3 linked regions of the Homo sapiens genome follow. The protein of the gene in region 1 purifies or fractionates together with the protein of each later gene. This does not show direct contact. Each region holds a gene or a part of one and is shown in the gene's direction. Other genes may lie near its edges. The genes, in order: SEC24D, NRBF2 and RSU1.

Evidence for each region.
Region 2: the proteins of SEC24D (region 1) and NRBF2 purify together in Homo sapiens (affinity purification with mass spectrometry; one large-scale study listed by BioGRID and IntAct). This does not show direct contact.
Region 3: the proteins of SEC24D (region 1) and RSU1 fractionate together in Homo sapiens (co-fractionation; one large-scale study listed by BioGRID). This does not show direct contact.

Annotation. Positions count from the first base shown.
Region 1 is NC_000004.12:118,815,574-118,819,227, reverse strand, and holds part of SEC24D (protein transport protein Sec24D), read left to right. Parts: intron 1-1,815; coding exon 1,816-1,964; intron 1,965-3,501; coding exon 3,502-3,654. UniProt on the Homo sapiens protein: Component of the coat protein complex II (COPII) which promotes the formation of transport vesicles from the endoplasmic reticulum (ER).
Region 2 is NC_000010.11:63,143,251-63,146,904, forward strand, and holds part of NRBF2 (nuclear receptor-binding factor 2), read left to right. Parts: intron 1-2,958; coding exon 2,959-3,043; intron 3,044-3,654. UniProt on the Homo sapiens protein: May modulate transcriptional activation by target nuclear receptors. Can act as transcriptional activator (in vitro). Involved in starvation-induced autophagy probably by its association with PI3K complex I (PI3KC3-C1).
Region 3 is NC_000010.11:16,691,775-16,695,428, reverse strand, and holds part of RSU1 (ras suppressor protein 1), read left to right. Parts: intron 1-273; coding exon 274-406; intron 407-3,654. UniProt on the Homo sapiens protein: Potentially plays a role in the Ras signal transduction pathway. Capable of suppressing v-Ras transformation in vitro.

The DNA of each region.
Region 1 (3,654 bases):
AAAAAGTATTATTTCTTAAAAAGAAGAAATGTTTTCGTCTTAGGAAACAATGGATTTACAAAACAGACCTTTAATGTAATTCTTGAAATCATTTTTTAGTGATCACAACATATTTTAAATGTGTCATGCAGGACTAGAATTATATTTTTTGTGCTTGTGTTTCACCAGTGTCATTAATTGATTAGAGATATAAAGAAAACTTTTACTGTGAAAAGTTAATGTTTGTATTTTCTATCTTTTATTCATTTTCTTCCAAAAAGTATTTAAGTCAAAGGGTGCTTAGCCTAACTGTGTTGGGCTTTTTGAAAAGTTTGACAGGAGAGAAATTGGATAGTTTTGTTTAACAGTATTTTTGGGTTACAATGTTATTCATTCCATTATTTCTAGCCAATTTTCTGCTATAGGATAGCTTGTACTTGTGCGTACAATGGAAAGAATGGAAAGACCATTTTCTTTTTTTTTTTTCTTGCAACATGTATTTTATTAGGCAGCCTTTCTGTATCATTACAGAAGAGTCCTAAATTATAAAGTCAATTCCGGCTACCGATAAAACATAGACTGCAGAAATAAGCTGTTCAGAGGTATGAGTGGAAAAGAGCATTTTCATCACTCACCTATTTATCTCAAAGTGTGAGATACTATTCTGCAAATATGCTTAATGTCATGCACTCAGAGTAATGGTTGGAAGGTTAATTTTCTGTTTTGTTTATAATAATTATTCAATTTAAACATATGGAGAAAAATGACAAGATAAAATTAGTGTGATGCTTTGAATAGTGCACTCACTGAAGACCTGGAAAAACGCTGGTCCTAGTGTTGTCACAAATAAATTGTGGGACTTCAGGCAAGCACTGGCTTCCCTCAGGCTCTGCTCCTAACCTCTCAATGGCAGTAGGGGGCAGAAGGCAAGACATGGGCCATGGGGAAATAGTTTCCAGTTTTCAGATAGAGAAATTGAAATCAGAGTATACCATTTGGGAAAACTTAATTTAAAATTTAAAATTCATAAGAATTTATAATGTGACTCTCAGGCAGGCTTTAATCGCATTTGGCAGATTAACCATGCTAGGCACATTGTCCAGATAGCGGCCATTGTTTAATGCAGAACAAGAAAAAATAAACGTCTAATAAGTTCAAGCTAAATCAAAGGTAAAGCATGATGTAATTTTTAGATTTTTTTTTTTTCTCTTTGGGACAGGGTCTGGCTCTGTTGCCCAGGCTAGAGTGCAGTGGTGCAGTCTCAGCTCACTGTAGTCTTGACCTCCTGGACTCAAGTGATCATCTTACTTCAACCGCCCAAGTAGCGCCACCACTCCTGGCTAATTTTTTATTTTATTTTGTTTTATTTTTTGTAGAGAAGGGGGTCTCACTATGTTGCCCAGGCTGGTCTTGAATTCCTGGGCTCAAATTGTCCTCCCACCTCAGCCTCCCAAAGTGCTAGGATAATAGGCATGAGCCGCTGCTCCTGGCTGTATTGTTTTCTTGATTTTCATTCTGTTGATGATTAACTTTAGTATAGATAAGGCTCTGGTTGGCTCAGTTTCCCAAATTGATTTCCAGAACTGGTTTTATGCTCACATTAGGATTTTTTTTTTCTGTCTTGGCATGTTCAGCATGTGAGCATAAATATAAGATGATGCTACATGATCATATTGAGTTCATGTCAAGCTTAATTAAAGATTTAGTATATAATATCAGTCATTTTCCTAGGCCTACTAGACAGGCTTAATTTAATTTTACAAGCTATTAACATTATTGTACGCCATTTGCTTGAGACGCTGTGATATTGTTTGACATCCTGTTTTCCTCTCTCAGATTTCCAGGCCCTCCACCTGTCAACAATGTGGCATCCTCACATGCACCATACCAACCCTCTGCACAATCTTCTTATCCAGGTCCTATATCCACTTCATCTGTCACCCAGCTGGGCAGCCAGCTCAGTGCTATGCAAATCAACAGCTATGGTAATAGTTTTATTATTAGTGTTTATTGACTGCCTTGTGTCCTGGTCATTTTTAATGAGAGAGGTTTTCTTCATTTTTAAAATAGATGTAACTAGGGCATACTGTGTTGAAGTAGTATTTGGACATTTTTAATAATAAAGCATCTATCTTATGTATGGCTATAGTTAATTGTTTTCTTGATCATGCTGCCACTTATTTCAAGGTAATTGAAGGACCCTCAGAATACCTTCCATTCAATGATTGAACAATAAGAAAAGACAAAAAATGCTGATTTCACAAATAAACATTAGAATAGTGAAATTATTTTAAGAAATAAATAAGGATAATTTAAACCTTGTATTGTTTATGATGGGGCCCCCAAATCAGAAATATAGTACTCATTGTTTCACAGTGCATTTTAATTATGTGTTTAGATCATGGAAAGAGTGGAAGCTCAGATGTTGTGAGGCAGAAAAGAGAAGATAGGAGAGGAAAGAGTCACAGTACTGAGATTTACATCAACAGAAATGCTGTATATCCTGTGAGTCATGGAAAGCTCCACTGTAATGACAGCACAGTCGGCCATTTATCTAGATGAAGAATGTTTCCATGTTACTTAAAATTAGTTTTCTGAAGTATCATTAAAACCCCTCTATTTTCTGTCTTTTACTCATTTCAAAATGGATAAGTCTCCAAAGAAGCAACCCAGTTTCCCATAATCAGAGAAAGGAAAACATAATCTGGTTTTACAGCTATTTCCAATATGATTGGAGAGCATGTTGGTGGCCCTTCTCTTGTCTCTGGTTATTTCTACCTAATTCTGAAATTTGTTTGGTCAAGTCACGCACAGGATGCAAATAATTTATTGAATGTGCAATTTACCTGAGTAATGCTTGTTATGTAATAGAATTTTTATATGATTTTCTAGATTTGTACCAGATACAGATGCTTTAATTAATGCATATATCATGTAATTACACAACTGAGTTAAAATTTATTCTATGAATTCCCTTACTTAAATTATAAATGTTGCTTTTACCTTTTAAAAATTTTCCAGGCCAGGCATGGTGGCTCACACCTATAATCCCAGCACTTTGGGATGCCAAGGAGGAAGTATTGCTTGAGCCCAGGAGTTTGAGACCAGCCTGAGCAATATCACGAGACCCCAACTCTACAAAAAAAAAAAAAAAAAAAAATGAACTTGGCGTGGTGGTGTGTGCCTGTAGTCTCAGTTACTTGGGAGGCTGAGGTGGGAGGATCACTGGAGCCCAGGATGTTGAGGCTACAGTGGTCCATTATCTTGCCATTGTATTGCAGCCTCAGTGACAGAGCAAGACCCTGTCCTTAAAAAAAAGAAAAAATCCCAGTTGTATAAAATAGCGTTTGTTCTATTTTCTGAATGAAGATTTCAATTTGTGGCAAAAAACCCAAACATGTGTTTCTAAGGGTGTCCTCTTGCTTTATGTCAGGAAAACAAACATCTCTGTCATGTACTTTGCAGAAGTCAGAGAGTTGAGAAATGTGGTATTTAAGTGGGCTGGTCTCCTTTCTCACACAGGTTCAGGCATGGCTCCTCCAAGCCAGGGACCCCCTGGCCCTCTGTCAGCCACATCATTGCAGACTCCTCCACGACCTCCACAGCCTTCCATTTTGCAGCCTGGATCTCAAGTTCTTCCACCACCACCCACCACACTCAATGGTCCTGGTGCCT
Region 2 (3,654 bases), on another chromosome or scaffold:
AAGGCAAACAGCAAGGCATTGCTGGAAGTGCTGTTTTCTACTTTTGTCTTCACCTGTGTTTTATACTGAGTATGATTTGTAAACATGCCCAGAATATTTATAATCTCAGTTGCAAACGTGATTCTGTGAAGTACTTTTATGCAGCATCAAAGGGACATGTCTTTAAAAAGCATCCAAGACAAATCATTTTTCAGCTAACTGACAGAACAGATTTGTTTTTTTTTTGGGACCGAGTCTCACTGTGTTGCCCAGGCTGAAGTGTAATGGTGCGATCTCGGCTCACTGCAACCTCTGCCTCCCGGGTTGAAGCGGCGATTCTCTTGCTTCAGCCTCCCGAGTAGCTGGGATTACAGGCACCCACCATCCTGCTGGGCTAATTTTTGTAGAGACGGGGTTTCACCATGTTAGCCAGACTGGTCTCAAACTCCTGACCTCAGATGATCCACCCGCCTTGGCCTCCGCAAGTGTTGGGATCACAGGCATGAGCCACCATGCCCGATTTTTTTTTTTTTTTTTTTTTGAGACAAGATCTCACTCTGTTGCCCGGACTGGAGTGCAGTGGTGCGATCACAGGTCACTGCAGCCTCCATTACCCAGGCTCAAGTGATTGTCCTACCTCAGCCTCCTCAGTAGCTGGGACTACTACTACAGGTGCGAGCGCCACACCCGGCTAATTTTTGTATTTTTTGTAGAGATGGGTTTTCACCATATTGCCCAGGCTTGTCTCAAACTCTTGAGCTCGAGTGATCTGCCTGCTTTGGCCTCCTAAAGTGCTGGGATTATAGGCATGAGCCACAGCACCCAGCCACTTTTTACCTTTTTTAAGTGATGTAAAAAACACGTGAAGTTTACCTTCTTAATTATTTTTAAGTGTACAGTTTAGTAGTGTTAAGTATATTCGCATGGTTGTGCAACAAATGTCCAGAATTTTTTCATCTTGCAAAACTGAAACTATGCCGTTTGAATACCTACTCCCCATTTCCCCCTCCCCTGTTCAATGATGAGTTGTTCCACCATTCAACTTTCCTGTTTTTAAGAATTTGACTACTTTAGATACCCAATAAGTCGATTTGTATAGTATTTGTCCTTTTATGACTGGCTTATTTTATTCAGTCTAATGTCCTCACAGTTCATCCATGTTGTAGTATGTGTCAGAATTATCTTCCCTTTTTTTTTTTTTTTGAGACACAGTCTCGCTCTGTCACCCAGGCTGGAGTGGAGTGGCGCGATCTCGGCTCACTGCAAGCTCTGCCTTCCGGGTTCACGCTATTCTCCTGCCTCAGCCTCCTGAGTAGCTGGGACAACAGGTGCCCCCCACCACGCCTGGCTAATTTTTTTTGTATTTTTAGTAGAGACGGGGTTTCACCGTGTTAGCCAAGATGGTCTCGATCTCCTGACCTTGTGATTTGCCTGCCTCGGCCTCCAAAAGTGCTAGGATTACAGGCGTGAGCCACCGCGCCCGGCCAGAATTACCTTACTTTTAAAGACAGTACCTTTCCATTGTGTGTGTATACTGCATTTATCCATCTATCTGTTGATGGACATCTGGATTGCTTTCACCTTTTGGCTGTTGTGAATAATGCTGTTATGAATATGGGTGTACAATGCTTTTTGCTTTTTTGTGAAGCTGTGAAGCTTTGCTAAATCGTGTGTGTTTGTTACTGAGGAAAATCGTTACATGAGGTAGAAAACTTTAGCTGATTATCTCTGCCTTTCTCCTTGCTAGTTAAATGTATAATCTTATGTAAGTTACACGACCTCCCCATCAGTCTTTTGGGCCTCCTTATGTAAGAGAGGAAAACACATTAACAAAGTCGTAGTTAAAGCAGCTGAAATAATGTATATTAAAGCTTTTTTTTTTTTTTTTTTTTTTTGAGATGGAGTTTCACTGTTTTCACCCAGGCTGGAGAGCAATGGCATGATCTTGCCTCATTGCAACCTCTGCCTCCCAGGTTCAAGCAGTTCTCCTGCCTCAGCCTCCTGAGTAGCTGGGATTACAGGCGCCCGCAGAGACGGTGTTTCACCCTGTTAGCCAGGATGGTCTCGATCTCCTGACCTCATGATCTGCCCGCCTCGGCCTCCCAAAGTGTTGGGATTACAGGCGTGAGCCACTGCGCCCAGCTAATTTTTGTATTTCTAGTAGAGATGGGGTTTCACCATGTTGGCCAGGCTGGTCTTGAACTCCTGACCTCAGATGATCCGCCTGCCTCAGCCTCCCAAAGTGCTGGGATTACAGCCATGAGCCACTGTGCCTGGACTTAAAGCTCTTTTGAAATTATTAAAGTGTAAGGAGGCCAGTGACTGCTTATTTAATAAGTTTTCCTTCAATTACATTATTTGCTGTTAGAACTTCTGATTTTTTTGACTTTGTTCTTTTGATGAGATATCTTTAAAACAATCTTTGTAATATTAGATGTTGGTATCATGAATTCATCAACTGCAATGTCCAAATTTTTTATTTTAAAAACAAATAGTAACTTTAATGTTGAAAGAATGAGATGATAGAAGAGAAGCTTGGATTTTACTACATGATGAGTGATTTCCTGATTATAGTTTTTAGACTATACAGATTAGTGAAAGTATCTACAAAATAGCTCTTGTTTTGAAAGGAGCTTGTTAAAAATCAAGAAAATAGACATTTTGAATAACAATCTATGATTGTAACTCTTGGTTTATCTCCAAAGAGTGGAAGAATGTGAGTCACTGAAGGAGTTAAGTGCCTGGTGTTAACCTTGAGAGGGCTTATGGTAGAAGTGAAAGAAGTTGCCAGTTCCTTTCAGATGCTGCAGTTCTAGGCTCTACCCATTACATTTCCCCAGCTACAGATAGAGCTGTAATAGTGATTTGATATGTGGCAACAAAACAGTATTATTTATCTTCTTAAAAGGTAGTTGCTTTTTGAAAGAAATCATGTTTTATTTTATGATCCAGAGGAACTTAGGGATGTTTGTCTTCTAGGCTCATCAACAGAGCAGACGAGCAGACCGTTTATTAGCTGCAGGCAAATACGAAGAGGCTATTTCTTGTCACAAAAAGGCTGCAGGTGAGTATTCTTATTAAGTACTCAGTGTAAAACTGAAGAGCAGAAAGTCACAATAGTAATAATGTGTGTTGCTTTTCATATGCAAGACTGATACTGCTGACCCACCAGAATATCAGCTTTGATTATTTTTCAAGTAAGTGTGTTGGATTTCCCAGCTCCTGCTAATCCAATCTTCTTTCTAAATCATGAAGATGGCATAAATGTGGTAAACAGTTCCTGGATACAGCTCTCTGAGCCCAAAGATCCCTAAAAACAGGAGCTGATTGTAACAAGTCTGCCATTTTATCTTAGTTATTATAAAAAGGAGTTTGGGTTTCAAATAGTTGGCCATTTCAGGTTCTAAAAATAGTAATTCAATTCAATTCCAACCAATTCATTTTCACTGAGCTTCTGTTTTCTAACATGCTGATAATGCAAAACTTACTATAAGACTTTTGTTACCTAAAATGTGGGAGATTTTTCCTGTGGTCTTTTTTTTAGCTTCCCTTCTGAATATCTCATCTCTACATGCATGCCTGTAGTAACATGCTGATGTTAGCTTTCATTTCAGTATGAATTTTAGAATTGTTAGCTTCTTATCAAAGACCTAATTTTACCCTAGTCAGTCAAGC
Region 3 (3,654 bases), on another chromosome or scaffold:
TCTCTGCAGCAAATACCTCCTTCCCTCTGCTCTGCTTTCCTTTTCCATCTGTCTTCTTTCTTCCTTCCTTTGTTCTTAATTTCTGGGGCCAAGGTACTGTCATGACTGTGTACCTGTGATGACTTGGGTTAAGAAATTTAAAAGACATCAAATGATCCAAGAGGCACTTAGGGTTTGATTTAGGGTACTTAGGCTGTGATTACTGAGAAGGACTTCTTAGACCTGATCTGTATTGGATGAAGTGACCTTCACTTTTTTTTTCCCCCCCCCCAGGAAACTTGGATTTAACTGGCCAGAAGCAGGTATTCAAAGCAGAGAACAATCCCTGGGTGACCCCCATTGCAGACCAGTTCCAGCTTGGCGTGTCCCATGTTTTTGAGTATATCCGTTCTGAGACATACAAATAGTAAGTAGACTCTGATTTTCTGAAATAGTAGACTGTGATTTTATAGTATTTATAATTACGCCTTTAAAAATATTATGTGACAGTATCCTATTGATGGCAGTTAGCACTTAGCATTTTAAGATGTTTTATTAAAAACTGCATGTCGGCCAGGTGTGGTGTGGCTCACAGCTGTAATCCTAGCATTTGGGGAAGTCGAGACTAGAGGATTGCTTGAGCCCAGGAGTTTGAGACCAGCCTGGGCAACATAGCAAGACCCCGTCTCTACAAAAGAAAAAGAAAAAGAAATTATCCAGGCATGGTAGTGCATGCTTGTCATTGTAGCTATTCTGGAGGCTGAGTTGGGAGGATCACTTGAGCCCAGGACATTGAGGCTGCACAGAGTCGTGGTCATGCCCTGCACTCGAGCCTGGATGAGAGAGCACGACCCTTTCTCAAAAGAAAAAAACAAGAAAAAACAGCATGTGGTCATTGTCTCTATTTGTAAATTGTTTTTTATTGATATTTTCAAGGGGATTTTTACTGATTTTCTTTAGAGAATTTTTGAGGTATTAAATTAGTTGAATATTCATGGCACTAAGGAAATTCACCATTCAGATCAGAACATATTTTTTTTCTTCTGTGAATGCAAAGAATTACAAGTGTTCTGAACAAAATTGTTAAGCAGTTTATTTATAAAATCAGTAGAGAGTACTAGCAATGCGTCATTCTATTATAGAGAAGCTTGTACTGTAGTGAGATGATAATCTCTTAGAGAAAAGGGGAAGGCAGGAGAGGAAGCGGAATCTGCCAGCTTAAAGTCACAGCATCCAAATACCTCAAGTCCTCACTCCAGGTGAAAGGAGTCTATGCAAAACTGTCCCAAAAACCTCACGATTCCTGCTTCTTTCTTCCTCCATGTGTCAAGGTTGAAAGGAATTCTGCCACTTCCACGTGCTTCTGTTGTTATATGTACCGTCATTATTTTCCTACCTTATCCCAGCCCCCAGCTGCAAAACAAACTGTCATTTATCAAATACTTGCCTGACCCCAAATGCTGAGATCTAGTATAATTTTAAGCATATACAAAAAAGACAAAAACATCCCTACTCAAATGTAATCTGTTTTTGTGTCTGACATCAACTTTTAAAATTTATTTTTTAATTAATTAATTAATTTTTTTTAAGAGACAGGGTCTCACTGTATTGCTGGGCTGGAGTGCAGTGGCACAATCACGGCTCACTGCAGCCTCAAGCGCCTGGGCTGAGGCAATCCTTCCATTTCAGCCTTCCAAGTAGCTGGGACTACAGGAGCACACCACCATGCCCAGCTAATTTTTTTAATTTTTTGCAGAGACGGGGTCTCCCTTTGTTGCCCAGGCTGGTCTCAAACTCCTGGTGTCAAGCAATCCTGCTTTCATCTTCCAAAGTGCTGGGATTACAGTCATGAGCCACCATGCCCAGCCTGGCACCAACTTTTGAGAATCTAACATCCCAACTATTGGAAGAAAGCTAGAAGATTGCTAAAGGTCACATTTAGTTAAGAGTTTCTTTTCTTTTTTTTTTTTTTGGTATCAGAAATATGTCCCACACTCAAGAAAACCCTGTGAATCTGTGCCAGGCCAGTGGGTCGGGATTGATTGGCAGGGCAGAGCCTCTGCCCAGAAGTGGCTGGCTGCATTTCTGCAGTCTTGCAGCCTGAGCGCCATGCTCCTGGTCAAACATTTAGCACTTGCTGTGGCCATGTTTCCACCAGACAGAAACAGAGAAGACAAGCTGTAAAGAATAATGGCCAGCCGGAGCATGGTGGCTCACGCCTGCAACCCCAACACTTTGGGAAGGCAAGGCGGGTGGATCACTTGAGGTCAGGAGTTTGAGATCAGCCTGGCCAACATGGTGAAACTAAAAACACAAAAATTAGCTGGGCATGGTGGAGGGGCACCTGTAATCCTAGCTATTCAGGAGGCTGAGGCACAAGAATCGCTTGAGCCAGGGAGGCAGAGGTTGCAGTGAGCTGAGATCGTGCCACTGCACTCCAGCCTGGGCGACAGAGCAATATTCCATCCCAAAAAAAAGAAAAAAGAACAATGGCCTTAAAATGAAATACACTAAAATTGCCAAAATGATACCGTATCCTCCTATATAAAAGCAATGTAAAGCGTGGTTTAGATTACTTTAGACAATACTATGACACTTACAGTATAAGTCTAAAGACTTACCTTAAGGATAAAATGAGATAGGTATAGGATGTGTATTAATTGTTTCATAAGCCATATAGATATGTACAGTTATTACAGATTCAATTTTTTTTAAAAAAATACGAATGTAGCTCACCCTTAGAAATTAGTTAATTATGAAAATGTGTGAAAATATAGTCACAAATTAGCAGATGATTGTTTATCTTCTTCTTTGTAAATTGTTAATCATTGCTATCGTGAGTTTTAGATGGGGCTCTAATTTTTTCTTAGTAAACAGGAAGCTATTTAGAGCTTGGTTTGTATGGTATCTTGAAAAAAGTCATTCTGTATATGATAGTATACAGAAAAATGCATGAACAAACTCCTAGCCATCTGGAATTAGAGGAAATTCTCTGTTTATTATTCTGGTTAACAATTTTTAGTTTTCCATAGATCACTTTATAATTTATAGAGGATGAGAATACATTGCATATGAAAGTGCTTTTAATTTTAAAAGATTAAATTGTGAGTTTCTGGATTTTGTATTACCTCAAAGTAATTATTAGGCAATTAATCACCATTCTGCACTGTTACAGACTATTTTAACTGATTTGAATGTGGTTAGGATTCTGGATAAATGAGAGGTATCTATAACATAATTGGTATATCTGTTTTTATGTCTGTTATTAGCATCCTATTTTGGGGGGTTGGCGTAGTCTAAGCAATGTGTCTGCTAACTTTTTCTGTTTCATTTCCTCATGGAGCCTTGGATTACCTTTTATGCAGTTAAGTCAACATTAAAAAGTTTCAGTAGGCTGGGTGCGGTGGCTCACGCCTATGATCCCAGCACTTTGGGGTGAATTGTGGGGTGATTCACCATGAGGAGGGTGAATCACTTGAGGCCAGGAGTTCAAGACCAGCCTTTCCAACATGGTGAAACCCCATTTCTACTCAAAATACAAAAATTAGCCGAGTGTGGTGGTGGGTGCCTGTAATCCCAGCTACTTGGGAGGCTGAGGCAGGAGAATCGCTTGAACCTGAGAGGTGGAGGTTGCAGTGAGTTGAGATAGATGGCGCCACTGCACTCCAGCCTGGG